7 linked regions of the Homo sapiens genome follow. The protein of the gene in region 6 purifies or fractionates together with the protein of the main gene of each other region. This does not show direct contact. Each region holds a gene or a part of one and is shown on either strand. Other genes may lie near its edges.

Region 1 (3,999 bases), on a different chromosome or scaffold from region 6:
CAAATAAAGTGGAATTATTATCTTGTTATCAAGACTAAATGGTTTACTGAAGCTTCAGGGAGGAAAAATGGTACTATTATAGAAAACTGGATGGAGCAGTTTCAAGCACACCGGAAATACAAGAGTATACACACCTATGCTCATTAGACTAGAAAGCCCACACACATCAGAAAGATGGGTAATGGCAAACATCACGTAAAAGAACACACAGCTATGCGAGATTTTTGATTTGTTAACTAAGATCAAGACAAGATTAGTAGGAAGTGTCACTGGGATGAAATATTCAAAGGGAAAAGTGGTTGTTTTACAGTGAGTCAAGTGGACTGTTGTAAGTCTCCTCCTTGGGAAGAAACACAATTTGTACAGTACTTGTTGGTGCTGGCCTAAGGCAGTAACTCAACGGCCAAATGTGGCTTTAAAACCCATTGTCTATTAACAGCACAGTGGGTTCTAAAATCAAAGACAATTCCTACACTTAAGGAACTTACAAACGTCTGGCTTTTCTCATAAAATCCACCCATGGAAGGGAAATGCTGCCTAAATTCCCACCTGGTAAGTGATGTCAGGCCTCGCAGGCTCAGCATTACTTCCTCCACTGAAGCCCCCAGTAATGGCGTGACCCAATGTGTGCCCCACAGCAGAGCCCACAGCCACGCCAGCTGCAGTGGTTGCCATCTGGGCCATCAGACCTGGCTGCCGGGGCGCAGCAGCAGAAGAGCCAACTGCAGATGGGGGTGCCGCTGCTGGTGGCTGAGCGACTGGTGCTGGCCTGGGTGCAGCTCTCATCTGAGGGGCCCGGCTGTGAAAGAAAAGAAAAAAACATCAAGTTCCCAATTCCAACCAGTTTTGGAAATTGTCAACTTAAAATAACTTACATATTAAAATGGACCTCAAGATTTTCATTTCAAATTATTTACATCATTTTCTCTCTTCAATTTTTTTTTTTTTGAGATGGAGCTTCGCTCTTGTTGCCCAGGCTGGAGTGCAATGGTGCAATCTCAGCTCACTGCAACCTCCACCTCCCAGACTCAAGCGATTCTCTTGCCTCAGCCTTCCGAGTAGCTGGGATTACAGGCACCCGCGACCACCTCCGGCTAATTTTTTGTATTTTTAGTTGAGACGAGGTTTCACTATGGTGACCATGGCTGGTCTCCAGCTCCTGACCTCAGGTGATCCACCCGCCTCGGACTCCCAAAGTGCTGGGATTACAGGTGTGAACCACCACGCACGGCCTAATTTTTTTTTTTTTTTTGAGACAGGGCCTCACTCTGATGCCCAGACTGGAGTGCAGTGTCACGATCCAATCTCACTGCAACCTCTGCCTCCTGGGTTCAACCGATTCTTCTGCCTCCGCTTCCCAAGTAGCTGGGATTACAGGCGCGCACCACCACACCTAGCTAATTTTTGTATTTCTAGTAGAGACGGAGTTTCACCATGTTGGCCAGGCTCGTCTCGAACTCCTGACCTCAAGTGATCCACCCGCCTCGACCTCCCAAAGTGTTGGGATTACAGGCATGAGCCACCACGCCCGGCCACTTTAATCTTTTCTTATAATAGTAATAGCCTAGGACATACTAGTTTTTTCTGCTTCTTTGCAACAATTTCCATGTATTCGGATAGCCCACAGTATCTTTAAAGACATATCCAACATGTCATAAGAAATACAGACTACTAAAAGTTAGAAAGATTCTTACAGGATTCATTCATTCAAGTATTAGGTAACTACAAGGCGCTGGTAATGTAACTGTGAACAAGAGACAAAAATCTCTGCATTCATGGAGTTTACATTTTATTGACGGATCAAATAATTAACATAGGCTGCGGAGTGGTGGCTCTTGCCTGTAATCCCAGTGATTAGGGAAGTGGAGGCGAAAGGATCATTTGAGGCCAGGACTTTGAGACCAGCCAGGGCCACATAATGAGACCCTGTCTCTGCTAAAATATAAAATAGAATAAAGTCGCCAAGTGTGGTGCACAGGTGGCGCATGCCTGTAGTCCCAGTTACTCTGGAGGCTGACGTGGTAGAATAGCTTGAGCCCAGGAAGTCAAGGCTGCAGTTAGCCATAATTACGTCACTGCACTACAGCCTGAGTTAGACTCTGACTCAAAATATAAATAAATAAACATTCTAATTAGGACTTAAAGATGGTCAACTGGGGAAATAATCTAGTCCAATTCCTTCATTTTACACATTACAAAACAAGACTGGCCAAAGTGACTCGTCTGAACTATTATACCAAAAGCAACTTCAACTATTCCTCATCTGTTCAACGTTCAGATGCTTTCAACAATTTCGAGACCCCTTCTCAAATAACAAAAGACTAATTATGTCCTGCACGTATTTAAAAATCTTCATATGTATCACGCTCCCTCTGACCATTTCCGGATTATTTCCTTGGGTGCTCTTTTCCCCGAAATCAAGCTAGGTCAAAATTTATGCCTTCCTACCACCTGGCCATAACGTTATGCCTTTCCCGTTGTTTGGATAGGAAGCTTTTTCCGTAAGTGAATTCCCTCCCCACACTCCCCTAACATAGGCTTTACGTTCAATCTACCCCCGCCTGGCAGAGGCGAGCCCACGCCGCAGCCGACCTTAGTTCACCCCCGCCCGCGGCCTCCCTCTGCGTCATTGCCCCAGTAGAGTCCGGACGGCCGCGCTTTGGTCTCAAACCCTGCGATGGTCTCACCTGGCCGGAGGGGCCATGCGGGAGGTGCGGCTTCGGCTTCCACGCGGCATCCTAGGTAAGCGACGGCTAGGCCTCCGGACGTGGGACAACCACCGAAGAGCTAAGCGACTTCTGAGGAGACCGGAAGATGGGAGGCGGGGCTGGCCTCAACGCGCAACCAACCAGCACACAGGCAGAGAACTTCCGTTCTCCGTCGTCTCCGCAGGCCTGAAGTTCATTGGAAGAGCAGGACGTCACGGGGACGCCTCGTCCTTCGCGGTCAACGCCCTGAACTTGGCGCCAGGATCTTTAAAACCCGGAAGTTCCTGTGGTTCATCCGCGAACCTTGTCCTCCGGTCCTCGCATCAGAGCACTTAGCATTTTGCTTCCCTAGGGCAGCTGGCCTGTCGCTCCGTCCTTCAAACATTTGTATTAAATCCAACCTTAAGAGTGACTCACATCTCTGGCTGGATTGCCAGGGGACCTTGGGCAGATTTCTTAGCCTTTCTGAGCATTCAGTTATAAGGGCAAATATTTTTGGAGGCACAGTGTGGACGCGTAGTATGAACTGAATGAAAGAAATCGGTTTCGTCAAAAATAAACAGAGTTGAATTAGTTGTATTTGGTATTTCTCTTTCTTGTCTGTGGATCCAGTCAGCAAAAGTTAAATTCAGGCAGCAATAATGTTTTACATTTATGTATTACTATATATTTTCAGCTCCTTTTCATATGTATTATAGAATTTGTGTCCAGAATTGGGACAGTAACCATACACTGGTAAATTCAACAAAAATTTACTGTCTAACTGGGTTATGGAGATACTGCACCAAATCAGATAAGATTCTACCTTCACGAAGTTAAGTTTCAAGGAGGGGAGACACAAACGCCTACGTAAATCAGGTGGTGGTGACATGAAAAGAGAGGAAGGAGACTGGAAATTAGAGGTTAGGCGGGGCGGGGGGGAGTCATTTGAACGGAGCCCTTGAAGAGGTGGGGAAGCAAGCCATGTGTTTATGAAGATAAGAACACTACAGGAAGAGAGAACAGCAATTGCAAAGGCCCCAAGGATCTGTGCTTTAGTGATACTTGGTGTGAAATGCTTTTTTTTTTTTTTTGAGACGGAGTCTGGCTCTGTCGCCCAGGCTGGAGTGCAGTGGCGCGTTCTCAGCTCACTGCAGCCTCCGCCTCCCGGATTCAAGCGATTCTCCTGCCTCAGCCTTCCGAGTAGTTGGGATTACAGGCGCACGTCAACCCGCCTGGCTAATTTTTTATTTTAGTAGAAACAGGGTTTCGCCATGTTGGTCAGGCTGGTCTTGAGCTCTTGACCTCAGGT
Region 2 (4,134 bases), on a different chromosome or scaffold from region 6:
ATCTGGCTACTGTTTATATTTGGTGTAAGGACGGGATGTTTACTTTCTGGAAATAAGTTAGAGTTGTTCATAATTGAAGTTGCAGAATGAGGAATTATTGTCAATAATAAACATTAACTCAAAATCCCTTCATTAACTGTTTATTGCCTTAGAATTAAAAGGTGAAATGTATAGTTAAAAAAATCTACACATAAACTGATGTGCAATCCCTATACTTCACTCAAAGCCTGTTGCATCCCAGGAGTAAAATATAATTACAAATCAGTACTATAGATCTGTCTAAAGATATGGCAATAAAACTTTGAGAAATGTGTAAGCCAAGGAAATGTTTTTATGGTTTTTCTCTTAAAAACTTCAATTTGTAGAATTTGCCAGTGCTCAACAGTGAAATCACTCTTTATGTATCAATATCAGCCCTGTCCTTATACCTAGCCCAAAGACTTTAGTAGTAACAACTACTAAAAAACAAAACCCAGCCCTCCAAGTGAGACATTTTTTTCCTTCCCACAAAACTAACCAAACAATCTCAAACCTGTGGGATTGCTAGACAATACTTATCTTCCACCTGTCAGTATAGTTGCTAAAACTCACCATTTTAATCCCAAATTTTATCTAATGTAATTTTACAATTTTTTGTAGAGACAGGGTCTATGTTGCCCAGGTTGGTCTCGAACTCCTGGGTTCAAGCGATCCTCCTGCTTCAGCCTCACAAAGTACTGGGATTATAGACATGAGCCGCCATGCCTGGCCCCCTATCTAATGTAATTTTAATATTAAACAAGCTAAGAAATAATTCTAAGAAGAAATTACACACAATGCTCACAAATTATTGGCACCTTCAGGGGCAATTCAGTTGCCAGGGCATCAGACTTCCAAACCTTGCTGTACGCTTCATACAACCTCTTTATAGTTTTGATTTAGGTTTTATTTTACTACTAAAATTGTTTTTAAATCAAATACAATGCCCCCAACTGTCTGCTTTAAAGGTTTTCTACATCTTCAAGTATTTATCACGGCAAGAGTTTGCTCCATCAGAACCCTGAACATTAGCTATTTTAAGTTTTACATACAAGCATTTTATTCTCCAGCGTCTCTTCTATATACTGAGGATTACTGCCTCTATAATTAAGGCAGCCTTGGTTTTAATATATAGGTTGAGCATCCCAAATCCAAAATGTTCCAAAATCCAAAACTTTAAGCACCACGTGACACTCAGAATTTGGACTTTCACACCGAGTGCAATGGCTCATGCCTGTAATCCCAGCACTTTGGGAGGCCAAGGCGGGAGAATCACGTGGGGTCAGGAGTCTGAGACCAGCCTGGCCAATATGGCAAAGCTCTGCCTTTATTTATTTATTTTTTTAGTAAAAAATACAAAACCGGGCATGGTGGCTGTGGCAGTGCTTGTAGACCTGTAGACCCACCTCCTCGGGAAGCTGAGGCATGAGAACTGCTTGAACCTGGGAGGCAGAGGTTACAGTGAGCCAAGATTGCGCCACTGCACTCCAGCCTGCGTGACAGAGCAAGATTCAGTCTCCAAAAAAAAAAAAAGAAAAGAAAAGAAAAGAAAAAGAAGAAGAATTTGGACTTTCAGTTCAGATTTGAGATGCTCAACCAATAAAGTATAATGCAAATATTCCAAAATCCTAAAAATTCCAAAACCCCAAACACTTCTTATTCCAAGTATTTTGGATAAGGGATATTCAACCTGTACTAAATTCAGTCCACTTCAAAGCAATATATTTAATACAAGCAGGAAATAAGTTATTTTTTGGTAATTTTATGATTTAAACTTAAGATGACATCTTACGGAGGAGTATGTAACTGAGCAACTTTATTAAGTTCTAAAGGCTCAGATGAACAAGTAAAGGAGTCTAAAATTCTTAGAACAGCAAGTCTGAACTAAAGGAACTTTAAAAATTGGCAGAAACTCTTTATACAATGAGGCCCCAGAGAACATAAGCTCTCTGACAGCTTGGGCTGTCCTTGTCCCCTTCACAAAGGTCTCCCCAGCAGTTACACAACCCACAGCAGGAGTGCACATCTGCAGAATGAATCACTGAAAGCAAAGTAAATGGTACAAAAACCCAGAAAAAACAGTCCTGCCTACACGTACTGAGATCCAATGAGACATAAAACAGCTAACATCTTGATTTCTCTATATCAAGTGTGTTTTAAATACAGTCATTTGAATGCAAAAACAAAAACAGACACATACACCTTCATGCCTGAATATTAAGAGACAAAACTCACACTAGAGAAATTTATTTTATGGTCCATTTGCTGCTTCACTTCTATTTTACAGAACAAAGGCTCTTTAGGAAGATGCTTAGAAGTTTCTTTAATATTAGGTTTCTTGAAGGGGGGATTACCAAATTGCTTTTCTAGTTTATGAATGACTATGTAACTTGCCAGATAGGCACATTTATGCAGTATCTTGTCACAGGACTGTAAGTTACCTTAAATCCCACACATTCAGGCGGCGGTCAGTACCACTTGAAGCCAGAATAGTTTCATTATGTGGAGACCAGTGGACCTAGTAATAGATAATTTTGAAAATGTATTTAAAGAATCATCCGCTGCTAGGTTTGTGGCTGTTGTTCTAATCTGATATTTTCCCATCTTGCACTCTATTATCTTATCCTTGGCCTGATGGCCTCACTCTCTTGTCCCCGACTTTCAAGTGCTCTGCAAGGGCTCAGCTCCATCCTGTCCTCAGGAAGGCTGCACTCCCCAGCACTGAGGAACTCAGCCTGGGATCTCAATAAATTTATTCGACCCCATAACCATCCCAGAAGCTTTTTAATTCTTCAACAAGGTGTACCTTACCCTATGAGCATCTCCATGTAACACCACGTACAAGACATTTTTTTCAATAGTGGACCCACGAGTCTGGTATAGCTTAACTGATGAATCCCTGGATTTCATTTCCTGACATACAGACACCAGAAAACTGTCACATACCTGGAAAATTTCATCTTTATGAGATTCGAAGGTATGGAGTTTTAATTTTAAGTTACGCAGATCCCATAAAGCTACGGTCTAAAGAAAAATAACAAGTGAAAATGATTTCTATGCTTTACCTAAGAATTTTCAAATATCTGATTAAGGCACAAGAGAACTGGGTTTTATAAACACCAAATAATGCAAAAACTTCGAAACCTTATCCGCAGAGCCGGTGGCTAGAATAAATTCGCTGTAGGGATTGAATGAGAGGCAGTTGACTTCGGCAGTGTGCGCATCCACCAAGTGACTCGGCTTGGAGGTGGTATTGGACCTGGTGTCCCATCTAAAACACAAAGGTAAAGGCACACGGCACCCAGGGATGACACACTCACATTCGGCCTCACATCACTGTCACTGCACTCCACAACTAGCTCCACTATGTGCTCCCCTTCATGAAGAAACCAACCACACAGCTGGTGATTCAGACCTCGACCACTAAATGATACATTCGAAACCTACAGAGAACAAGCTAGGGCTGTTAGTCCTGTTTTTTAAATTAGATTCCTATTTTAATTACCAACTATTTCAAGTGTACACAAAATACAGACTATGTAGAGAATAATGTCACAATCTGATACCTAAAACTAGTTTTGACAAATGCCCAGTATTTTGTCACATTTGCCTCAGGTATTTCTTTATAAGATTATAAGTGAATGAAGCCCTGTGGCCACACCTTGATGAAATCATTTTCCTCCTCGACCTCCAACTGGCATCACTCTGGATCTCAATTTTGATATTTACCACCACACCAAGTATGTTCCTTCACATGTCCATACCTAGTTTTCTTTTTTTCTAAATAATAAGTGATCCTCCCACTTCAGCCTCCTGAGTAGCTAGGACTACAGGTGCACACCACCATACCCAACTAATTTTTTGTTTTTAAATTTTGTGTAGAGTCTCACACTCCTGGTCTCAAGCAATCCTCCTGCCTCAGCTTCCCAAGGTATTGAGATTACAGGAGTAAGCTACCTAAAGCTGTTTTTTAAAGCCATAACTTAAAAAAAAAAAATCAAACTACAGCCTGCAGCAATCACTGATGGTCATTCAGGTCACCCATTTAACAAGATCCCACTGAATTTTCCACCTTACATCATAAGTTTCTGATCATCAGCAACAGATCCAAACAAT
Region 3 (4,134 bases), on a different chromosome or scaffold from region 6:
TCCTGCCTCAGCCTTCCAAGTAGCTGGGACCATAGGCACCCACCACCACTCCCAGCTCATTTTTGTATTTTAAGAGACGGGATTTCACCATGTTGGCCAGGCTGGTCTCAAACTCCTGACCTCAAGTGATTCGCATACCTCGGCCTTCCAAAATGCTATTACAGGCGTGTGCCACCATGCCTGGCCTAATTTTGCTTTTTTACATTATTATTTCTAGACCACAAAGGAAACAGTTTATAGAGCCCATGATTATGGATTACTTTCGATGGAAAGATACTATAACACCTGGATTTTTTACTTTTCTGTAGCTTTAAATAATACTTATAAATGTTATTAATTAAATATATTCATTTAATTTAGGTCTTAAGGTTTGACAATTCAAATTAACTTATGTTTGGATATAAACACAAAAATCTGTGTATAGGTTTTCTCTTGTCTGTTAGTTTTGTAAAAATCTGTTGGACTGTATTTCTCGGTCAAAGTCAACCATGAACTTTACTTGCACGTGTCAATATGTGGAGACCAAGAGAAACCAATAGTCTTCACACTCAATCCTTTACCCACTCACCTCTGTAATATAAAACTAAAATACTGACAGGTGATCTCAACTCTAAAGTAAAAGATCTATAAAATATAGATGAGTTCAGCATCCCAAAGCCAAAATGCTCCAAAAATCCCAATTTTCTGAGCCAACATGACATTCAAAGGAAATGCTCATTGAAGCATTTTGGATTTGGGATGTTCAACAGGTAAGTATAACGCAAACATTTCAAAATCCAAAAAAAGTCTGGAATCTGAAACGCTTCTGGTCCGAAACACTTCAGATAAGGGATATTCAACCCATACACTTCAATAAGTCCTAGTAGTAAGAGCTTGACATTCATGCTTCAAACGTCTAGACTGAGGATCCTTCAAAAGACTCAGAAGCCAGTTTGAAGAGGCTTCTACTGTTCAAGAATGGGAAATTTAAATTTTAAAGCTTTACTTCATATATTTACTCAGCCATTATTTTTGTAGTGGAGACTGCACAATGCTGTATTCAAATGCAAATAACTTATGGGCATACTACCACTTAAGATTTCTATATAATAACTTAGCACAGTGATAAAGAATTAGTTATGAACTATTACTTTTGATAAAAATCTTTTCTATATAGAGAAAATTACTGCCTTTTAAGACATAATTACTATTAAATCCTAATGAAATACTACACTACAGTTTTCCAAAGAACCAGATCATGAAAACATGTTACCACTTATTAAAACTATGAACAATCCTCAAATAGTAACACACTTAATCCTTGCCAATTATCTTCTCACCAAAAAGAGTTTAAAAAAAAATAAAAAGCTTCAAACATCTCCAAATGCATTAAATACTAAATACCTTCATTAGTAACACCTTACTTTTTTTAAGAGGCTGGAGCGCAGTGGTGCAATCACAGATCACTGCAGCCTAGAACTCCTGGCCTCAAGCAATCCCTCCCACCTCAGCCTCCCAAAGCACTGGGTGTAACACCTTACTTTTAAGTAGAAAAATCAGATCAGTAATTCTGGTAGGAAATAAAATGACCTCTTAATAAAAGTTATAATTTTTGTTTTTATTATTACAAATACTTAAGAATACTTATTAAGTTACCACTCTTGTCATCCACTTTCAGGTACATCAACTTTTTTTTTTTTCTTTTTAAAAGACAGGATCTCACTCAGTCGCCAAGACTAAAGTGCAGCCTTGACCTCCTGGGCTCAAGTGACCCTCCCACATCGGCCTCCTGAATAGGTGGGACTACAAGCATGTGCCACCACCCCCGAGCTAATTTTTTTATTTTTCTGTAGAACCAGAGGCTCCCGATGTTGCCCAAGTTGGTCTCAAACTCCTGGGCTCAAACCATTCTCCTGCCTCAGCCTCCCAAACAAAGTAGGGGGATTACAGGTGTGAGCCACCGCACCGTCCTACATAAACTTTAAACATACAAAATGTATGCATGCACATGACTTTCTCACTCTAGGCTTCTTATCAGATGTTCTAAAATCTAGAGTTAACAAGAAGTAATGGTTTTGTGCCAGGAGCAGTGGCTCACGCCTATAATCCCAGCACTCTGGGAGGCCAAGGCAGGTGGATCACCTGAGGTCAGGAGGTCAGCCTGACCAACATGGTGAAACTCCATCTCTACTAAAAATACAAAAATCAGCCAGGCGTGGTGGCACACGCCTGTAATCCCCGCTACTTGGGAGGCTGAGGCAGGAGAATCACTTGAACCCAGGAGGCAGAGGTTGCAGTGAGCACAGATCACACCACTGCACTCCAGCCTGGGCAACAAGAGGGAAACTCTGTCTCAAAAAAAAGCAATGGTTTTCTTAGGGGTGGGGATGAGGAGGGCAGTTATTTGAAACCTTAACTTCTCACATATTCTTACCATGAGTTTCACCAAAGTGGAGGTTAATTCGTATGTATTTTTAGCACTTGCCAGCACTTGCTTTTTAGGTTTGAAAAGGCTTGCCAAAAGTTATCTCAAAACTTATAACCACTAGTACTATCTTTGTAAGAGAAAACATCACACACATATATTTATACACACAAGTTAAAGGGAGGGGGAACCTGCTGAGGAAAATTAAGGAATACGTTATTTTAAACTACTTTAACGACCTGATACCTGAGGAATGGGATTCTTACTGGTTCCAACAATGTTCCAAAGTTTCCACTTCAACACAGTCTAACACACAATGAACATAAAATATTATCTTCACATATAGTATGCAAAATCAAAACAAAGAGCTTCTTACACTTCAACATTTTTCTGTTGCAGACCAGATGTCTTCTTTCCTGGGGCAGCCCCTCTCATCTTCCCCTCTGCATACTGCTCCCTTCAAAAATAATTTCAGTAATGTCAACATAAAATGAGCATTTATGTGAAAAAAAAATTGTCAGCCTGATTCCATTAGGAATTTACATTCAAATTCTGGCAACAAGTTTTTAACAAGTTGGACAGAGATATTTCCACAAAAATCAAACAAAACACTCAAGAAACAGCAAAAGGCTCAATTAAAATCAATGTAATAAAAAGTGACTGTAATAGACTGTTCTCATAGCATTGAAAATTCCATTTGTTTTGGAATTCACTAATCCCAGTGTTTTATTTGTTCCCATTACCATTTTAATTCTTTTTTTTTTTTTTTTTGAGACAGAGTTTCACTGTGCTGCCCAGGCTACACTGCAGTGGCGCGATCTCCGCTCACTGAAAGCTCTGCCTCCCGGGTTCACGCCATTCTCCTGCCTCAGCCTCCGGAGTAGCTGGGACTACAGGCGCCCGCCACCATGCCCGGCTAATTTTTTGAATTTTTAGTAGAGACGGGGTTTCACCGTGTTAGCCAGGATGGTCTTGATCTCCTGACCTCGTGATCCACCCGCCTTGGCCTCCCAAAATGCTGGGATTACAGGCGTGAGCCACTGCGCCCAGCCATCGTTTTAATTTTTTTAAAAATACATTTCAACTTTGAGATTACCCTATAAATCATAGAGTCTTTCAGGGTCCCTTTTCCCGTGCTTTCAGAGATGAAAAGCAGAATAGGAAATGCCTCGTTTGCTTGTTTCCCCACCAAATTTGTCTTCCAGAGCCCCCGAAAATAAAGATTTTTATCAGTGAGTTCATACCTATAGCAATTTCCAACAACATTCTGCTGTTTTCTACCTAGGTCTAAGATAAGCTCAAGTAATGGCAGGTATGCTACTTCCTTTACCTAGATATGGCTTGATCGCTTGAAGTCAAAGCTGTAACACAGCAGCTGAAAGGTACCAGGAATCATTTTATAGGCAGGGCAGCCAACATGATCTCCATTGTTCATTCCATGTCCAGAATTAATCTACAGGCATTTCTCCTTAATATTCAGTTCACAAAACAAACTTACTGATTGGCTTTTTGAAGTTCTCGCTGTTTCTGCAAATTGGTGTCCACGTATTTGAGTACTCTGCTCTCCGGAACCCATTCATCCCAACTGAAAAAGAGGAAAGTTAAAATTTAACTCAAAAATACTCTGTTCTCCAACTAATTTTCTGAGATCAAGAGGCAAGACTGGATTTCTCTTAAGTAATTTGATGAACTGGCACTACAAATATATTCTCAACTAAAATGAAGATCTA
Region 4 (4,134 bases), on a different chromosome or scaffold from region 6:
GCCATGCTCAATTGTTTATTACCTATGGCTTCATTTGAACTGCAGAATCGATTAGCTGTGACAGAGGCTACATGTGGTACTCTCATGACTTCAAACTGGTGCTTGGAGCACCACAGATTAGTGACACAGTTGTAACTCAAACGCAGTTTAGGAGTCACATGAATCACCATGTCATGACATTTTGTTACCAGTGTATACTCATGTCAAAATAAGGGGAAAATGGACTTCTCATGTCATCCTTTTGAAGTATAGTGAAGTGAGATATTATTAGATGGCAAAGCATTGTATTTATTATATAATGGTGCCATAACTGTGCTAAATAAAACAATACAATGTAAATTGATATTTCCAGACTAAGCACTCATAAGAATATTCTCATAACACTATAAACAGCATACCATAGTACAGCAAAATTTCTTCACAAAATTAAAAAAACAGAAATGAGGCTGTGATCAAAATAAAGTTTCTGAGCGGCTCACGTGTTAGATAAGCAAGGAAAGCTGTGCACCAAGTCAATTAATTAAATCATGTTTGATTACACCACCCAAAAAAATGTGTCCAGACAAATTAAAGTTGTTTAAAACTATTAGCTGAGTGGGCAAGAACTTGCTCAAAGAGTTGAAGACACTGGAACCAACATCAACAGTCAATTAAAAAACAAGGCAAATGATTGCAAATGATTTTCCTTTGCTCCTGATGAGCAGGCAAGATGTTACACTGATACTGCTCAATCACTGTTTATTTGAGGAGTCAGTATCAATTTTAAGTTGACTGAAAAGTCAGCCTCTATGGATAGCATGCATGGAATAACTACAAGCAAAAAACACTAGCTCAGTATAATACAAAGTAGAATCTGCTAAGATGTGTCATAACTGATGGCAAAAAATAACTAACATTGCGAACATCCAAATTCCTAAGTACCTCTATAGATCTCTCTCTCAAACTGCAGCCACAGATAAGGAAAAATAACTCCTTCAACAACTCAGAGATAATTTTATATCCATCAGTAGAGAACAAAGCCTCATTCAGATATGGAAGTTAGGCAGTTAGACTAACTCAATAGGTAAAAAAATTTCCTTTAACACTGGCTTCAAATTTTTGTCTTCAGTTTAAAACATCCAAAATACTAGAATATAAACTTCCAAGGTCATTGTCATTTTTTACTAGTTGAAACTAACTAAAATGAAAATTGCCAAACTACTTTTAAAAAAGGGTATTTAATGGGAGTTTTGACATTTATATACACTTCTAATTCTTTTTTTTTTTTGAGATGGAGTCTCACTCTGTAGCCCAGGCTGGACTGCAGTGGTGCCATCTCGGCTCACTGCAACCTCCACCTCCCAGGTTCAAGCAATTCTCCCACCTCAGCCTCCTGAGTAGCTGGGATTACAGGCGCACGCCACCACGCCCGGCTAATTTTTCTATTTTTAGTAGGATGGGGTTTCACCATGTTGGTCAGGCTGGTCTCAAACCCCTGACCTCATAATCCACCCACCTCGTCCTCCCAAAGTGCTGGGATTACAGGCATGAGCCACGGCACTGGCCTTTTATACACTTCTAATTCTTTTTTTAAGGCAGGGTCTCACACTGTTGCCCAGGCTAGAGTGTAGTGGCAGGAACATGGCTTCCTGCAGACTCAACTTCCTGGGCTCAGGTACTCCCACCTCAGCCTCCTGGGTAGTTGGGACTACAGATGCATGCCACCACATCTGGCTAATTTTTTTTCTGTAGAGATGGGGTTTTGCCATGTTGCCTAGCCTGGTCTCAAACTCCTGGGCTCAAGAGATCCGCCCACCTCAGCCTCCCAAAGTGGAGGGATTACAGGCCTGGGCCATAGTGCCTGGCCACACTTCTAAGTCTTAATAATTGAAGAATTGGGCAAATTTCCTGCATTTCTTCATTGTTTTGTAATGAATTCATAGAAAATTCACCATTAACTATTTCAACCTATGGTTTACCTAATATTTTTTAAAGCCATAGACTTTATTTATTGTGTTTTAATGAAAACACTTTATCACTGAAAAGAGTATCAATATAAATTAACATACTTTAGTAATTCAAGGATGGCAAGCACAATATCATTAACGTAACAGAATCCTGATGCTTCTGATTTCTTAGCATGATGTAATCCTCCAGCCCAATTAACAGCCATATCAGTCTGTTGTCGGTTTAACTTCACAGCTCCAGCTAAGAAGTAGAAACAAGATAGACCTTTTAAACATTTATCATAAAAAAGTAGTAGAATGAGACAAAAACACTACAAGTGTATGCCATGCATAAGCAAGAGCTTAAAATCATGAAAGTTAACAGAAATCATCTATAACACAAATAGGAGTTACTCCTTAGAAAAATATTCTCCTAGAGCTGCAACCTGAGATTAAATAATGGTTTATGTGGAAAGTGGTAGTAACAATGATACCTAGAAGACAAAGGGAATGAATGAAGTCTCCAAGTGAAAATAAGTTTAAAAAGCGTTTAAGTCATAATCATAAAACATAGAGGTTTGAAAGTAAATTGTACTTTACTATAAACATACTGATTTCCTTTTGTTATCAAAATTCACAATCATTAAAACTTCTGTTTTACACAAATAACCCGAAAGATAACACACCAAGTTCAGATCAACTTTTAAATCTGATTGCATTAGCACTTACCAACTGAACCGCCAGTTGAGAGCTGACAAAACTCAAAGAGTCCATCAAACACTGGACAATCTTCTCCAACATTAACTGTGGAAGATGGATTTCATTAATTTCAACACATTCTGCAAATTAATGAAAGCCTTTTCTTACAAAAACTATTTCCCACAAATACTTTTTTGCTTGATGCAATCATCAAACATACACTTCACAGTATAATATAAAGTTTCCAACTTTAAAATATATTTATTGTTTTATCCAAGGTAATTAAAGTGTTATCTGTGAAAGATCATCAAATCTTATCAGGATTATCTGTGGAATATTTCTGTCTATTAACAAGAACTCAATAGTTGTCTAAGTACAACAATTCTTATTTAATTAAAACACAGGCTTAAATTTTCTAGGCCTTTCCCCTTAATATTACAATAAGTTAACATTCTAAAAGCAACTTCAATTGCTTTATAATTTACTTTCTTTGAAACTCCTTAAATACCTATAATATCTGTAACTTTGAAATGCATGTCAGTAAGTTACTAAACCAAAAAGATGTAACAGCTGGTTGCCTATTCCCATGGCTAATCTTGATCTTGAAAGTTGCTAAGAATTAACTAGGTTCATGGGAGCCAAAACATAGGATACTAAAGACAACAAGGAAAACATTTACAGATAAACGATCACACATTTAGTTCCTTAGCACTGAGAGAATGAAAGGATATGGCAGATGTATGTAACCCTTTCTTAGTCTTTCCCTATGCCCTTGAATTGTAACCTCTTCAAGAATAAGGGTCCTTGTTTTGTATATTAATATCTTTGTATACCCTTAAGTCACAAGCACTATAAGAAATGAATTTTAGTTTCTTACTGCACAGAGAGATCATAATCTTTTTTTTTTTTTGGAGACAGAGTCTCACTCTGTCGCCCAGGCTGGAGTGCAATGGCGTGAGCTTGGCTCACTGCAACCTCCACCTCTGGGGCTCAAGCAAGCAATTCTCCTGTCTCAGCCTACAGAGTAGTGGGATTACAGGCGCGCACCACCACACCCAGCTAATTTTCTGTACTTTTTTAATAGAGACAGGGTTTTGCCATGTTGGCCAGGCTGGTTTCGAACTCCTGACCTCAGGTAATCCACTCACCTCCGCCTCCCAAAGTGCTGGGATTACAGGCGTGAGCCACCACACCTGGCCAGGATCATAAGCTTAATAGAACTCATTATTATGTGGGTTTTAAATCAATCCTGTTATGTTGTTTGCCCAAGGGCTACTCATGCCTCTTTTGCATCTAAGTTGGAATCTTCATTGAAAAAAAAAAAATTAAATACTACATGTTCTAGTTACATTGTAGCATTATAACAAATCAAACAAGATATGGCAGAAATGTGTATGAGGTTGTAAATATGAGATGTCTAGCACCTACACTAATTTAGTATAATCATCACTGAAGTCAGTCAATACAAACACTAATGAGAATGAACTTTGGTATCAAGCTTTAAAAGATA
Region 5 (4,134 bases), on a different chromosome or scaffold from region 6:
GAGGTTGCAGTGAGCTGAGATCGTGTCACTGCACTTCAGCATGGGCGACAGAGCAAGACTTTCTCAAAAAAAAAAAAAAAAAATTAAGTGATAAGGAATCTGTGGTTCCTTCATCTTGATGAAGAGCATGTTTCATTTAAGTTCCAGTTTGGAATATTACCCCCCAGCCACCAGCATAAAATACGAATGCTACTTACTCATGTTCCCTTGAGCCAGGACTAGGTAAGTGCACAGTGATCCCTTTTGCTTCTCCATTTTCTATGACGACTACTCCTTGTTGACATATTTGACACTGTTGTTTTACTATAATAGATGAAGCTGTAATGAAGTCTATTCTGGGTAGGGTCTGAGATGCTGTCACCTCCGCTAATGTCAAGTTGGTGGTGCAGTAAGTGGCATGATAGAATGAGCTCTGAGCTTTAAATCAGGAACTCTGGGTTCATCTGACCCTGGCTTTGCTACAGAACTAGCTGTATCAACAACTACTTTTTTTTTTTTTCTTGATGGCTGCTGGCTGTTTGCTAACTGCTTTATAAATATCAGTGTCCTTAAATTTTGGTACAAACGTGCAGTGTTCTAATAGGATTATTCCATACATATTGTTCTAAATCTTGCTTTTTGTTTTTTCTTTTAACAATATTATTTGGTGATCTTTCTCAGCTGAATGATTAAAAATCTGCCTCCTGTTTCATTAATTCATTCAAAAATGTGCTAGGCATTATTTCAGGTACCAAAATGTGGCTGTGAACAAACCAAAGACTTTACGTTGTTCTTAATGGCTGCGTGGTATTCATTATTATAGATGTACCATATTTATTCAACCATTCCCCTTCAAATACACCAGTAGGTTATTTCCAATTTTTTTAAAGCAACAATGAGATACTGAGTATATGTGTCGTGCTAAGACTTCCTACTGATAATCTACTTATATTATGTTGTGTAATTCTTTTTTCTTAGTGATTTATGGTATATTTTTGTAGTTTTACCAGTCTGATTATCTGTCTTAACTTTTCAGTATTTTTCTTAACAATGAGGTGTTTAAATCCTCTGAAATGTATTTTGCATATGTATCATACAAAGTCTGTAGGAATATGACTTCCTTTCCCAATGGATTATTAATTTTTATAGCAGCATTTATTGAATTATTTTTCTTACCTATTGATTTCTCCATATATTCTCAGATCTCTGTGATTTTCCATTTTAATCCTCTGATCCATCTGCTTGGGTTATACTGTCTTTCGGTAACATTATTTTGATATAATTTCAAACTTTAAAAAGGCTGCAAGAACAATACCCAACACTCCCACATAACCTCTACCCAGATTCATTGACTCTTAACATTTTGCCCCATTTGCTTTATCATTCTCTATCTTGCTACAGATAGTTTTTTTTTTGAAACCATAAGTTGGAGACAGTAAGCACTTTTATCTCTAAATATTTCAGTGCGTATTTCCCAAGAATGGGAATATTTATCTTTTTTTTTTTTTTCTGAGACAGGGTCTCACTCTGTCACCCAGCCTGGAGCACAGTTGTGTGATCTCTGCTCACTGCAACCTCTGCCTCCTGGGCTCAAGGGATCCTCCCACCTCAGCCTCCCCAGTAGTTGGGACTACAGGTGTGTACCACTGTGCCTGGCTCATTTTTGTATTATTTTGTAGAGATGGGTTTTTGCCATATTGCCCAAGCTGGTCTCGAATTCCTGGGCTCAAGCAATCCGCCCATCTTGGCCTCCCAAAGTGCTGGGGATTATAGGCATCAGCCACTGTGCCTGGCTGGGAATATCAATCTTACATCGTTTCAGTACACTAATCATAATCAGGAAATTAAACACTGGTACATTTATCTATATACCATATGCAAATTTTGTCAATTGTCCTATTTTTTTTTTTTTTTTCCTGTTTCAAGATCCAATCTGGAATCTTGGATTTCATTGAACTGTTCAGTTCTTCAGGCTTTGTCTTTTTATGACCTTGACATTTTTGAAGTCCTGTTTTATAGGAATGTCCCTCAGTTTGGGTTTGTCTGATGTTCCCTCAAGGTTAGATTCAGGATGTGCATTTTTAAAGTCATAAGTCCTTAGTGCATCATATTAGAAGATATGTGTGTCCCATTGTAGGCAAAGCTAAACTCAAAGAACTTGACTAGGGTATTATCTGCCAGTTTTCTCCACTGTAAACTTGCTGTTTTTCCCTTTGTAGTTGCTACACTGCTGATTATATCCAATTTAAATTGTAATATCTGGTATTCTTGGCAATTTATATTTTCCCATAGCCTTTAGAATCACTCAATCTTCCAATCCAAGATCGTGGTATGTTTTTGCATTTTTTCCTTTAATATATTTGAGTTTTTTCTTCATATAGGCTTTTTACCTTGTTAAATGTATTCTGAGGGTTTTGGTGTTTTTGTTTGTTTCTGAGAGAGGGTCTTACTCTGTCGCCCAGGCTGGAATGCAGTGGCATAATCTTGGCTCACTACAACCTCCGCCTCATGGGCTCAAGTGATGCTCCCACCTCTGCTGGGATTACAGGGGTGAGCCAGACAGAGTCTCGCTCCATCACCCAGGCTGGAGTACAGTGGTGCCATCTCTGCAACCTCTGCCTCCCGGGTTCAAACAATTGCCTCAGCCTCTCGAGTAGCTGAGATTACAGGTCTGCGCACCATACCCAGCTAATTTTTGTGTTTTTTGTAGAAATGGCATTTCGTCACGTAGGCCAGGCTGGTGTTGAACTCCTGGATTCATGTGATCTGCCCACCTCAGCCTCCCCAAAGTGCTGGGATTACAGACAGGCATGAGCCACTGTGCCTGGCCTATTCTGTTTGTTTGGTTTTTTAACATGTTTTGCAGCCATTATTATGATTTCCTTTTTTTTCTTTTTCTTTTTTTTTTTTTTTTTTTTTTTGTTGTTGTTGTTGCCCAGGCTAGAGTAGAATGGCGCAATCTTGGCTCACCGCAACCTCCGCCTCCCGGGTTCAAGTGATTCTCCTACCTCAGCCTCCCAAGTAGCTGGGATTATAGATGCCCACCACCACGCCTGGCTAATTTTGTATTTTTAGTAGTAGAGACAGGGTTTCTCCATGTTGGTCAGGCTGGTCTCAAACTCCTGACCTCAGGTGATATGCCCGCCTCGGCTTCCCAAAGTGCTGGGATTACAGGCATGAGCCATTGCGCACGGCCCATTAGTATTATTTCTTAAATCATTGAGCATCTTGAGTTTGTTTTTTTGTTTGTTGGTTTGTTTGTTTTGCGACGGAGTCTTGCTCTGTCACCCAGGCTGGAGTACAGTGGCGCGATCTCAGCTCACTGCAAGCTCTGCCTCCCAGGTTCATGCCATTCTCCTGCCTCAGCCTCCGGAGTAGCTGGGACTACAGGCACCCGCCACCACGCCTGGCTAATTTTTTGTATTTTTAGTAGAGACGGGGTTTCACCGTGTTAGCCAGGATGGTCTCGATCTCCTGACCTCGTGATCCCCTGCCTTTGCCTCCCAAAGTGCTGGGATTACAGGCGTGAGGCAGCGCACCCGGCCTTTTTTTTTTTCTTTTTTAAATAAGGCATATCATATTGCTTTGATTATAAAAATACCACTTGATTTTGTATTTTTTCCAGTATTCTACTTATTTGGTCTTTTGATGATGGTATAAATACTAAGTGAGGCATTATGTGAAAAATGAATATTTCAGTGCTTCATAGCGTGACATTTTATTTTTATTTTATTTATTTATTTCTTTGAGATGGAGTCTTGCTCTGTCAACCAGGCTAGAGTACAGTGGCATGATGGCTCACTGAAACCTCTGCCTCCGGGGTTCAAGCAACTCTCCTGCCCCAACTGCCCAAGTAGCTGGGATTACAGGCGCCCACCACCACACCCGGCTAATTTTTGTATTTTTAGTAGAGACAGGGTTTCACCATGTTGGCCAGGCTGGTCTCGAACTCTGGACCTCGTGATCCACCTGCTTCAGCCTCCCAAAGTGCTGGGGTTAAAGGCGTAAGCCACCGTGTGTGGCTGAGCCACCATGCCCAGCTATTTTTACTTTTATTTTATTTATTTATTTTTGAGACGAAGTCTTGCTGTGTTGCCCAGGCTGGAGTGCAAAGGCGCCATCTTGGCTCACTGCAACCTCTATAGTGTGACACTT
Region 6 (4,134 bases):
CTGCTGCACTCCAGCCTGGGTGACAGAGTGAGACTCCATCTCAAAAAAAAAAAAAAAAAACTAATTATTCATATAGAAGTCTATTAAATTACAGGCATTCCAAGTAATACTTTTTATTATCAAAAATAATAGGGAGAAAGATGAAGTGATTTAATCAAAACAGGAAACCATCATGCTGATGACTTAATGACTCAGAAGACTGAAAATTTGCTTCCCATCAAAAAGCAATGGGAATCATAGTATTTTCAAATCATATATAAAAAAAAAACTTAATAGATGCCAACAAACTGTCAGCCAAAAATAATCTTTTTTTTAAAAAAGGGCACACCTAACCTTAAAACATCTCAACTCTCAGTATTTTCTGCAGTTTTCAGCCCAAGCCTCTTGCTAGAATAAAATGTCATGTTAATGAAATAAATAGTCACCCAATGATAAAGGTCAGAATAAATTACCTTTGTGAAGAAGTATTGACTGGAAAGGAGATGAAACAACCCACTAGAGTGCTATAAAAATGTTATATATCTTGATCTGCGTGATGGCTACAAAACAGGTGTACACATATGAAAATTTATTGAACTGTACGCTTGAAATTTGTGCATTACACTGTAAGTTACACCTCAATGTAAAAGAAAAAAGTTAACGTGAGAAGCAGCAATCTCACAATGACATTTAGGGAACAAAGTATTATAAACTAAAATAACTACAAATCAAAGTTTGTCTGCCTTTTAGCTTTAAATCTCAGTTTTGCAAACATTCTCACAGGTTGGGGAAAGAGATGTCCATGAGGACTTAAAAAAACCCACAAAGACAAGATTCCAATAAACCGTCAGATAAGCACACTTAACCTTTAATCATAACATATTTTCAATAAGTTTTCTGAATATTTAAACAAAGTGTACTTTATTAGTAGTATGAACCTTAAAAGGAAATCAGCTTCTCAAGATGGAGTTAAACACTCTGGATGACCGTTATAAGGAGAATTGTGAACAACTAAGTATTCAGACTAGGTTACCTCTAAAAGCCCCTTCCCTATTTTGAAATCCTATGACTTTAGAAAACCAGAAAAGTGCAGCCGGGCACGGTGGCTTGCACCTGTAATCCCACCATTTTGGGAGGCCAAGATGGGAGATCACTTGAGATCAGGAGTTCGTGACTAGCTTGGCCAACATGACGAAACCCCGTCTCTACTAAAAATACAAACATTAGCCAGGCGTGGTGGTGTGCGCCTGTAGTCCCAGCTGCTTCTGAGGCTGAGTGAGGGGAATCGCTTGAACCCAGGAGGTGGGAGGTTGCAGTGAGCCGAGATCACGCCTCTAGCCTGGGTGATGGGGGAGACTCCGTCTCCAAAAAAAAAAAAAAAATGCAATTTAACTTACCATCAGATTAAACCTAAGGTTTACCTTTTAAATGGAAAATCACTGACAGAGAAAGTTTCAATAGATTACTACTCATACTATTAATACTTACTCTAGCAAATTCCTTAGGGTATTTATGAAAATAAAATAGAGATAAAGATTGGCCGGGCACAGTGGCTCACACCTGTAATCCCTACACTTTGGGAGGCCAAGGTGGGCAGATCATTTCAGGTCAGGAGTTCAAGGCCAGCCTGGCCAACATGGTAAAAACCCCATCTTTACTAAAAATATAAAAATTAGCTGGGTGTGGTGGCACACACCTTTAATCCCAGTCCCAGCTACTCAGAAGGCTGAGGCATGAGAATCGGTTGAACCTGGGAGATGGAGGTAGCAGTGAGCCAAGATTGTGCCACTGCACTCCAGTCTGGGCAAAAGAGTGAGACTCTGTCTAAAAAAAAAAAGTAGAAAGAGCTTCATTAAAGAGTACTACAACATATTGCTATTAATGATAAAATAATTTTTGAAAAAAAAATTTTTTTTTCAGACACAGTTTCACTCTTGTTGCCCAGGCTGGAGTGCAGTGGTACTATCTCAACTCACTGCAACCTCTGCCTCCCGGTTTCAAGTGATTTCCTACCTCAGCCTCCTGAGCAGATGGAATTACAGGTGCCCACCACCACACCTGGCTAATTTTTTGCATAATTAGTAGAGATAGGTTTTATTTTATTTTTTTTTTTTAGACGGAGTTGTGCCGCTCTTATTGCCCAGGCTGAAGTGCAATGGCGTGATCTCAGCTCACCACAACCTCCACCTCCCGGGTTCAAGCAATTCTCCTGCCTCGGCCTCCCAAGTAGCTGAGATTACAGGCATGTGCCACCACGTCCGGCTAATTTTGTATTTTTAGTAGAGACGAGGTTTCTCCATGTTGGTTGGGTTGGTCTCGAACTCCCGACCTCAAGTGATCCTCCTGCCTCAGCCTCCCAAAGTGCTGGGATTACAGGCATGAGCCACCGTGCCCGGCTGAGACAGGTTTTCATCATGTTGGCCAGGCTGGTCTCAAAAACTCCTGACCTCAGGTGATCCATCCGCCTCAGCCTTCCAAAGTGCTGGGATTACAGGCATGAGCCACAGTGCCGAGCCAATTTTTGAAATTTTTTTTGTATTTTATTCATACTACAGTCAAACACATTCAGAATCTTAAACAGCATCATACAGCAAAACTTAGTAGGTAAGTTTTGATTGAATAAAAATTTCAAAAAAGCATTCTTAAGATGAATTTTTATCCTAATAGTTCCCTATAAGAAGAAACCCACCACCCAAATTTAGCATAATTTGTTCTTTAGTACCATAGGTTTTCATATAACTATACTAGACAATTCTTGACACAGTGCTTACTTACTAACATCATTACCTGACTGATTAAAAAAAGTCTCAAGCTGTATTTTAGCGTAAGACCGTACTTCCCAAATTTTTTAGTAAGAGAATTTTGACCTGACACTAATTTTAAAATGTATCATAAAAGATAATTTAAATATGGTTACTCTGTTTTTTTGGAAACAGGGTCTTGCTCTGTCACTCAAGCTGGAATGCAGTGGTGTGATGACAGCTCACCGCAGTCTTGACCTCCTGGGCTCAAGCAATCCTCCTGCCTCAGCCTCTTGATTAGCTGGGACTCCAGGAGTCCACCACCATGCCAGGATTATTTATTTTTTAATTTTTTGTAGAGATGGAGTCTCACTATGTTGCCTAGCCTGGTCTCGAACTCCTAGGTTCAAGCAATCCTTCCACCTCAGCCTCCCAAAGTGCTGGGATTATAGGTATGAGCCACCACATGCCACGAATTATTCTCATGTTTTTCCTTACAAGTGAAATCTTCCTGGCCACGCATGGTGGCTCACGCCTGTAATCCCAACACTCTGGGAGGCTGAGGCGGGTGGATCATCTGAGGTCAGGAGTTCGAGTCCAGCCTAACCAACATGGAGAAACCCTGTCTCTACTAACAATACAAAATTAGCCAGGTGTGGTGGCAGGCACCTGTAATCCCAGGTATTTGGGAGGCCAAGGCAGGAGAATCACTTGAACCCGGGAGGCTGAGGCAGAAGAATCACTTGAACCCGGGAGGTGGAGGCTGCAGTGAGCCGAGATGGCACCACTGCACTCCAGCCTGGGCAACAAGGGCGTGACTCCATTTCAAAAAAAAAAAAAAGTGAAATCTTCTAAAAGTAACTGCAATTTAAATAAGAATAAATTTTTATTTCAAAATAGTATATAAATTATAAGATATGAAAGGCCACAAGAAGAAGTTGTTTTACAAAATTCCCAGATAATTAAGCAATAATAAATTTGTATTATTGTAGTAACAAAACATATTTTAGCCGGGCGCGGTGGCTCACGCCTGTAATCTATAATCCCAGCACTTTGGGAGATCAAGGTGAGCGGATCACGAGGTCAGAAGTTCGAGACCAGCCTGACTAAGATAGTGAAACCCCATCTCTACTAAAAAATACAAAATTAGCCTGGTGTGTTGGCACATGCCTGTAATCCCAGCTACTCGGGAGGCTGAGGAAGGAGAATTGCTTGACCCTGGGAGGCAGAGGTTGCAGTGAGCCAAGATCAGGCCATTGCACTCCAGCCTGGACACAAGAGCAAAACTCCATCTCAAAAAAAAGAGAAAAAAACATATCTCAAGGTTATTATAATCTCAGCTTGCAGGTCAGTTAGTTTTTTTTTTTCACATTAGGGAATATAATGTTAAAAAATTAACACAATTTCAGCAAAA
Region 7 (4,134 bases), on a different chromosome or scaffold from region 6:
TAGTTTTACTCTTGAGGGAGCCAAATAATGGCAAAAGGCCAAAGCAGATGGGGTGTGGGGGAATATGTTTTTGTGTTAGAGTTCAGGTAACCTGAGCAGTTACTACTGTTAATGTGAGTCAGAGAATTACAGGCACATATTTTACATTTATTGTGTTACCTGCCATTTTATTGAACTTTTTGAGATCATATGACTGCAGAGTAGTTGGCTTCTGCGAGAGTACTAATGGATGCCTTGGTAGTAAGATCAGAGGGCTGAATCTGGAGACTTGTCTTTTTGCTTAAGCAAAAGCAAAGATGCAGGGAATCCCTGTGGCAAGATGCAGGTGCAAATTACTGCCCTGTGTCTCTTTCCTCGTTGGGCAAGTGAAGATGGTAGTACCATGTCTGTTGCACAGTATCATTCTTTACTTTGAGAATGGAATAGGATGGAGGTCACCCTGTACATATATTAGACACTCAGCAAAGACTTGATTTTAGTTTAAAGATAAAATGGAAGCATGGTGGCTGTATTACATTTTCATTTGATTCCATCTTGATTTGCCTTGGGAGGAGATGGGTAAATTAAGTGATCAGAAGTAAAATAAGCAACGTGCCCTATTAACGAATGTTTTGTGTGGCCTCTGTATTGGCAGCTCAGTGTTTAGCCAGAATGTAAAGAAACTGATATATAAAAACGTCTTAGAGTTTTTAAAATTTCAGTTCTCTAGTGTTAAAAGGTAATTTTACAGAAAAAATGGCAAGTGAACACATGTTGAAACTTTTACTCAGAGGGAACCAGGCAAATGTTATACAGTAATGGTTAACCCGCAAAATCAAAACAGTACAAATTTATTAATATATGGAGTAAAGGAATGGAGAGATGAATTCCAAATGGAGACAGAAACTTTTTTTTCCCTTGAGTGGAAGGGAAGACATTTTGAACCTCTACTGTAGAGACAAAATTTACATGTCTATCAGTTATTCATAATGAAAAAAGAGTTGTGGCTGGGCGCAGTGGCTCACACCTGTAATCCCAGCACTTTAGGTGGCTGAGGTGGGAGGATCCTTTGAGTCCAGGAGTTTGAGACCAGCCTGGGCGACATCGTGAAACTCTGTCTCTACCAAAAATTAGCTGGGTGTGGTGGCCAGCTCCTGTTGTCCCAGCTACTCAGGAGGCTAAGGTGGGGGGAAGATCACTTGAGTCTGGGAGGTGGAGGTTGCGTTGAACCAAGGACAGAGTGGGTGACAGAGGGAGAGCCTGTCTCAAAAAAGAGTTGTAAGATAGCTCAAAGACATAGTGGAGGGCTATAGTCTGGTAACTTGGAAGGATGTGCTATATAGATAATGCATAGTTTTCCACTGAGATACAGAATTGTTTTCTACGTTTGATGTTAATTATGTGAATACAACTGAAAAGGTGGAGAGAAAAAGAGATTAAAATACCACATTTTCTATTTCTGTAAAGACTAATGATATTCACATTAAATTACAATTCAAATATTTGTTGAGTACGTACTGCTTGCTACCCGCCTATTATTTCATTTATGATATTTTTTAACCTTCTATATAAAACCAACTTTAGGAAGCAATAATTTAAAAATAGCCCCTAAAGCAGTGTTTCCTAGGCTGTTTAATAGGCATTTCATGGAAAAAAAAAAAAAAAAAGGCTTCCTCTGGAATGTATTTTAGAACTGCTGCCCTAAGATCCTAGATTAAATAAATCTTTTCTTTCCAAAGGAGACATTGGAATCTGTAATCAGGAGGTAGTGGAATCCTCTTCTGAGATTAGAGAGCTGAGATTAGAGGGCCACTCGTGTGTGAGATAAGGTATGAATTAGGAGAATTTTCAAGGTTTCCTGCAGTCATTTCTTTTTTTTGGAAGGATTTACTTTAATTGTGATTGAGAGTCTCTGGAGTTCTGATTTATGAGTATTATTACTTTAGAACAATGAGACAGTTTTAACTTGTAAATAGCATAGAATATATGTAGCACTTTAAAAAAATTCTAAATGTTTTGCGTTATAAGCAGAATTTGAATAACAGGATTTTAAAAAGTGACATCTAATGTAGAAGCCATTAACACTCCTGCTTCAAACGGCTCCCCAGCTCCATGCTCCAGACTGAGCAGCAGTCAAATACATTATGAAGACATATACATCAGTCAGATTTAAGAGTCACAGCTTTGGGATGGAATTACCAGCCAAGAGACCAGTTAGGCTTTTTCAGCACTTCCAGTACCTTTTGTAAAGAGCTGTAAAGATTCACTGATACAGTGTATTAAAGTGACTGGAACAGACCAGTGCCTTATTAAAGACAGTATTACTCTTCCATTATTCTCATTAGTATTTATTTCATTTTCATTTTTGTTGAAATATAAAATATCTACAAACCTTCTAACCTGTAGCTGGATTATGTTTATCCTTATGTGGAGGCAAGAATACATTTTTTTCTTCTTGTAGAAATTATTTCTCTTAGGTCAGTCAGCATCTTCCCAGTAGAGTTATTTACTGCTAAAAACAGTATTGCTGTTTCATGTAATTTTTCCTCATTTACTGCTTACAGGATGACGCTGTCAGTATAGAAAGTGGTACAAACACTGAACGCCCTGATACACCTACAAACACGCCAAATGCACCTGGAAGGAAAAGTTGGGGAAAGGGAAAATGGAAGTCAAAGAAATGCAAATATTCTTTCAAATGTGTAAATAGTCTCAAGGTATGTGCAAAAAAAGATCCTTTGGGCTGAATGCTAGGCTTCAGAAATTATTTCTCTGTGGCACGCATTTCGTACTCAGGATACTCTGTCAAGTTGTAAATATTTTAAAGTTACAATGTTTTCTGAAGGGTTTTTTTTTTTGTAGTTCAGACTGCGTATCTATTTTAGTCCATCCCATGTTTAGTTTTTTGGTTTTGTTTTTTGTTGTTTTAATTTAAATATGTGACAGTGTTGCAGGATGTTTTTGCTTTATTGTTTGCATTCAAATTATAAGATTTGGGTAACTATTACTCTTTATATTTTAGTAAAACTTAAAAAACATAAGCCACTTCTGGCATCAGTTTTTAAAAAGAACTGAATGTAACCCATTAACTTTGACTAAGTATAAATTGAAACAGATGTTTTACTTTGTACAGTTTCTGTCCTTTGTTTTATTTATAACTGTTTTCAAAGAAAAAGGTGTAAAAAATTTTTAAACTTTTTAATATTAAATATTTAGGGAAAAGGGGGTTTTGGTTATTTAAATTAATCTGTCCCCAATAGTATTTTTATTTACTTTATAAAAGGGGTTACTGGTGTTTAAGATATTTTCTTTTATATATGTCCAGTTTGTTTTTTAAATGTGAGGCTATTTTTTTCTATACTGAGGAAAAATGTGTATTATCTCATACATATGTAAGTTAAAACCTTTTCTAAATATCCAAATATATTTTTTATAAGTAAAGTTTTGGGAAAGCATAAGAAGCTATGACTATGACATTTTTCTGTCTGTGTAGCAAAAATTCGATGCTCAGTGTGTCAGATTTTGCTCCTGTAAAAGGAGAGAAATTAATCTCAGCATATTTTTTAAAAGTCAATTATAGTTTCATGTGCATATTTATTTACATTAACGTACTACTTTTAGGTACTGTACCTGGAAGATGTTTTTAGCTGCCTTTTATACTTAAGGCAGTATTTCAAAATCCTAAAGCTGTGGCTTTTCAAATGATGAGAAAACGAAAGACGTACTTTAAAAGTGAAAACAGTGCCTTAAACTGCATCTGAAAGTCAGTGTTAAATGCCAGAAGTTGGCCAGTAAAATCCTAAAGCTGAAAAATAACTTTGTGAACAAAAGTGCATAATTGTTCTTTGTACATCTCCTATAGCCTCCTGGTAACTGTGCAGTTACAGTTTATTTCTTCCCCTAGTCCCCAGTGTTCAGATATTCTCATTCTGACTAACAGAAAACAGTGATTTGAATGGAGTCTGCTATGCTTCACTTTACAAGGGAAAAATTTAGCCTTATAAAATTTAGTGAATGCCAGAGAAGCTATTAAGGCCATCTGTTAATTTCCTGTTTCAGAAAAATAAATTGTGTCCTTTTGTATCCACCAAAATTATCCAGTTTATTGTGATTCAGAATATGATTGGCTTATTAAGAAAAAGGCAAATATTATAA

Evidence for each region.
Region 1: the proteins of KDM5A (region 6) and CHCHD2 purify together in Homo sapiens (affinity purification with mass spectrometry; one large-scale study listed by BioGRID and IntAct). This does not show direct contact.
Region 2: the proteins of KDM5A (region 6) and RBBP7 purify together in Homo sapiens (affinity purification with mass spectrometry; 4 studies listed by BioGRID and IntAct, with this or other methods). This does not show direct contact.
Region 3: the proteins of KDM5A (region 6) and MORF4L1 purify together in Homo sapiens (affinity purification with mass spectrometry; 7 studies listed by BioGRID and IntAct, with this or other methods). This does not show direct contact.
Region 4: the proteins of KDM5A (region 6) and HDAC2 purify together in Homo sapiens (affinity purification with western blotting; 2 studies listed by BioGRID and IntAct, with this or other methods). This does not show direct contact.
Region 5: the proteins of KDM5A (region 6) and LIN28A purify together in Homo sapiens (co-immunoprecipitation; one large-scale study listed by IntAct). This does not show direct contact.
Region 7: the proteins of KDM5A (region 6) and EED purify together in Homo sapiens (affinity purification with western blotting, with the first as the bait; one study listed by BioGRID). This does not show direct contact.

What each region holds. Positions count from the first base shown.
Region 1 is NC_000007.14:56,103,677-56,107,675, forward strand, and holds the start of CHCHD2 (coiled-coil-helix-coiled-coil-helix domain-containing protein 2 isoform 2 precursor), read right to left. Parts: upstream 2,801-3,999; 5' UTR 2,738-2,800; coding exon 2,688-2,737; intron 800-2,687; coding exon 550-799; intron 1-549. UniProt on the Homo sapiens protein: Transcription factor. Binds to the oxygen responsive element of COX4I2 and activates its transcription under hypoxia conditions (4% oxygen), as well as normoxia conditions (20% oxygen).
Region 2 is NC_000023.11:16,849,587-16,853,720, forward strand, and holds part of RBBP7 (histone-binding protein RBBP7), read right to left. Parts: coding exon 4,096-4,134; intron 3,290-4,095; coding exon 3,163-3,289; intron 3,043-3,162; coding exon 2,965-3,042; coding exon of another isoform or gene 2,830-2,964; intron 2,537-2,829; coding exon 2,460-2,536; intron 1-2,459. UniProt on the Homo sapiens protein: Core histone-binding subunit that may target chromatin remodeling factors, histone acetyltransferases and histone deacetylases to their histone substrates in a manner that is regulated by nucleosomal DNA.
Region 3 is NC_000015.10:78,885,996-78,890,129, reverse strand, and holds part of MORF4L1 (mortality factor 4-like protein 1), read right to left. Parts: intron 3,990-4,134; coding exon 3,903-3,989; intron 2,862-3,902; coding exon 2,781-2,861; intron 1-2,780. UniProt on the Homo sapiens protein: Component of the NuA4 histone acetyltransferase (HAT) complex which is involved in transcriptional activation of select genes principally by acetylation of nucleosomal histones H4 and H2A.
Region 4 is NC_000006.12:113,953,965-113,958,098, forward strand, and holds part of HDAC2 (histone deacetylase 2), read right to left. Parts: intron 2,730-4,134; coding exon 2,655-2,729; intron 2,188-2,654; coding exon 2,049-2,187; intron 1-2,048. UniProt on the Homo sapiens protein: Histone deacetylase that catalyzes the deacetylation of lysine residues on the N-terminal part of the core histones (H2A, H2B, H3 and H4).
Region 5 is NC_000001.11:26,420,537-26,424,670, forward strand, and holds part of LIN28A (protein lin-28 homolog A), read left to right. Parts: intron 1-4,134. UniProt on the Homo sapiens protein: RNA-binding protein that inhibits processing of pre-let-7 miRNAs and regulates translation of mRNAs that control developmental timing, pluripotency and metabolism.
Region 6 is NC_000012.12:378,917-383,050, forward strand, and holds part of KDM5A (lysine-specific demethylase 5A), read right to left. Parts: intron 1-4,134. UniProt on the Homo sapiens protein: Histone demethylase that specifically demethylates 'Lys-4' of histone H3, thereby playing a central role in histone code. Does not demethylate histone H3 'Lys-9', H3 'Lys-27', H3 'Lys-36', H3 'Lys-79' or H4 'Lys-20'.
Region 7 is NC_000011.10:86,247,753-86,251,886, forward strand, and holds part of EED (polycomb protein EED), read left to right. Parts: intron 1-1,696; exon of another isoform or gene 1,697-1,808; intron 1,809-2,543; coding exon 2,544-2,696; intron 2,697-4,134. UniProt on the Homo sapiens protein: Polycomb group (PcG) protein. Component of the PRC2/EED-EZH2 complex, which methylates 'Lys-9' and 'Lys-27' of histone H3, leading to transcriptional repression of the affected target gene.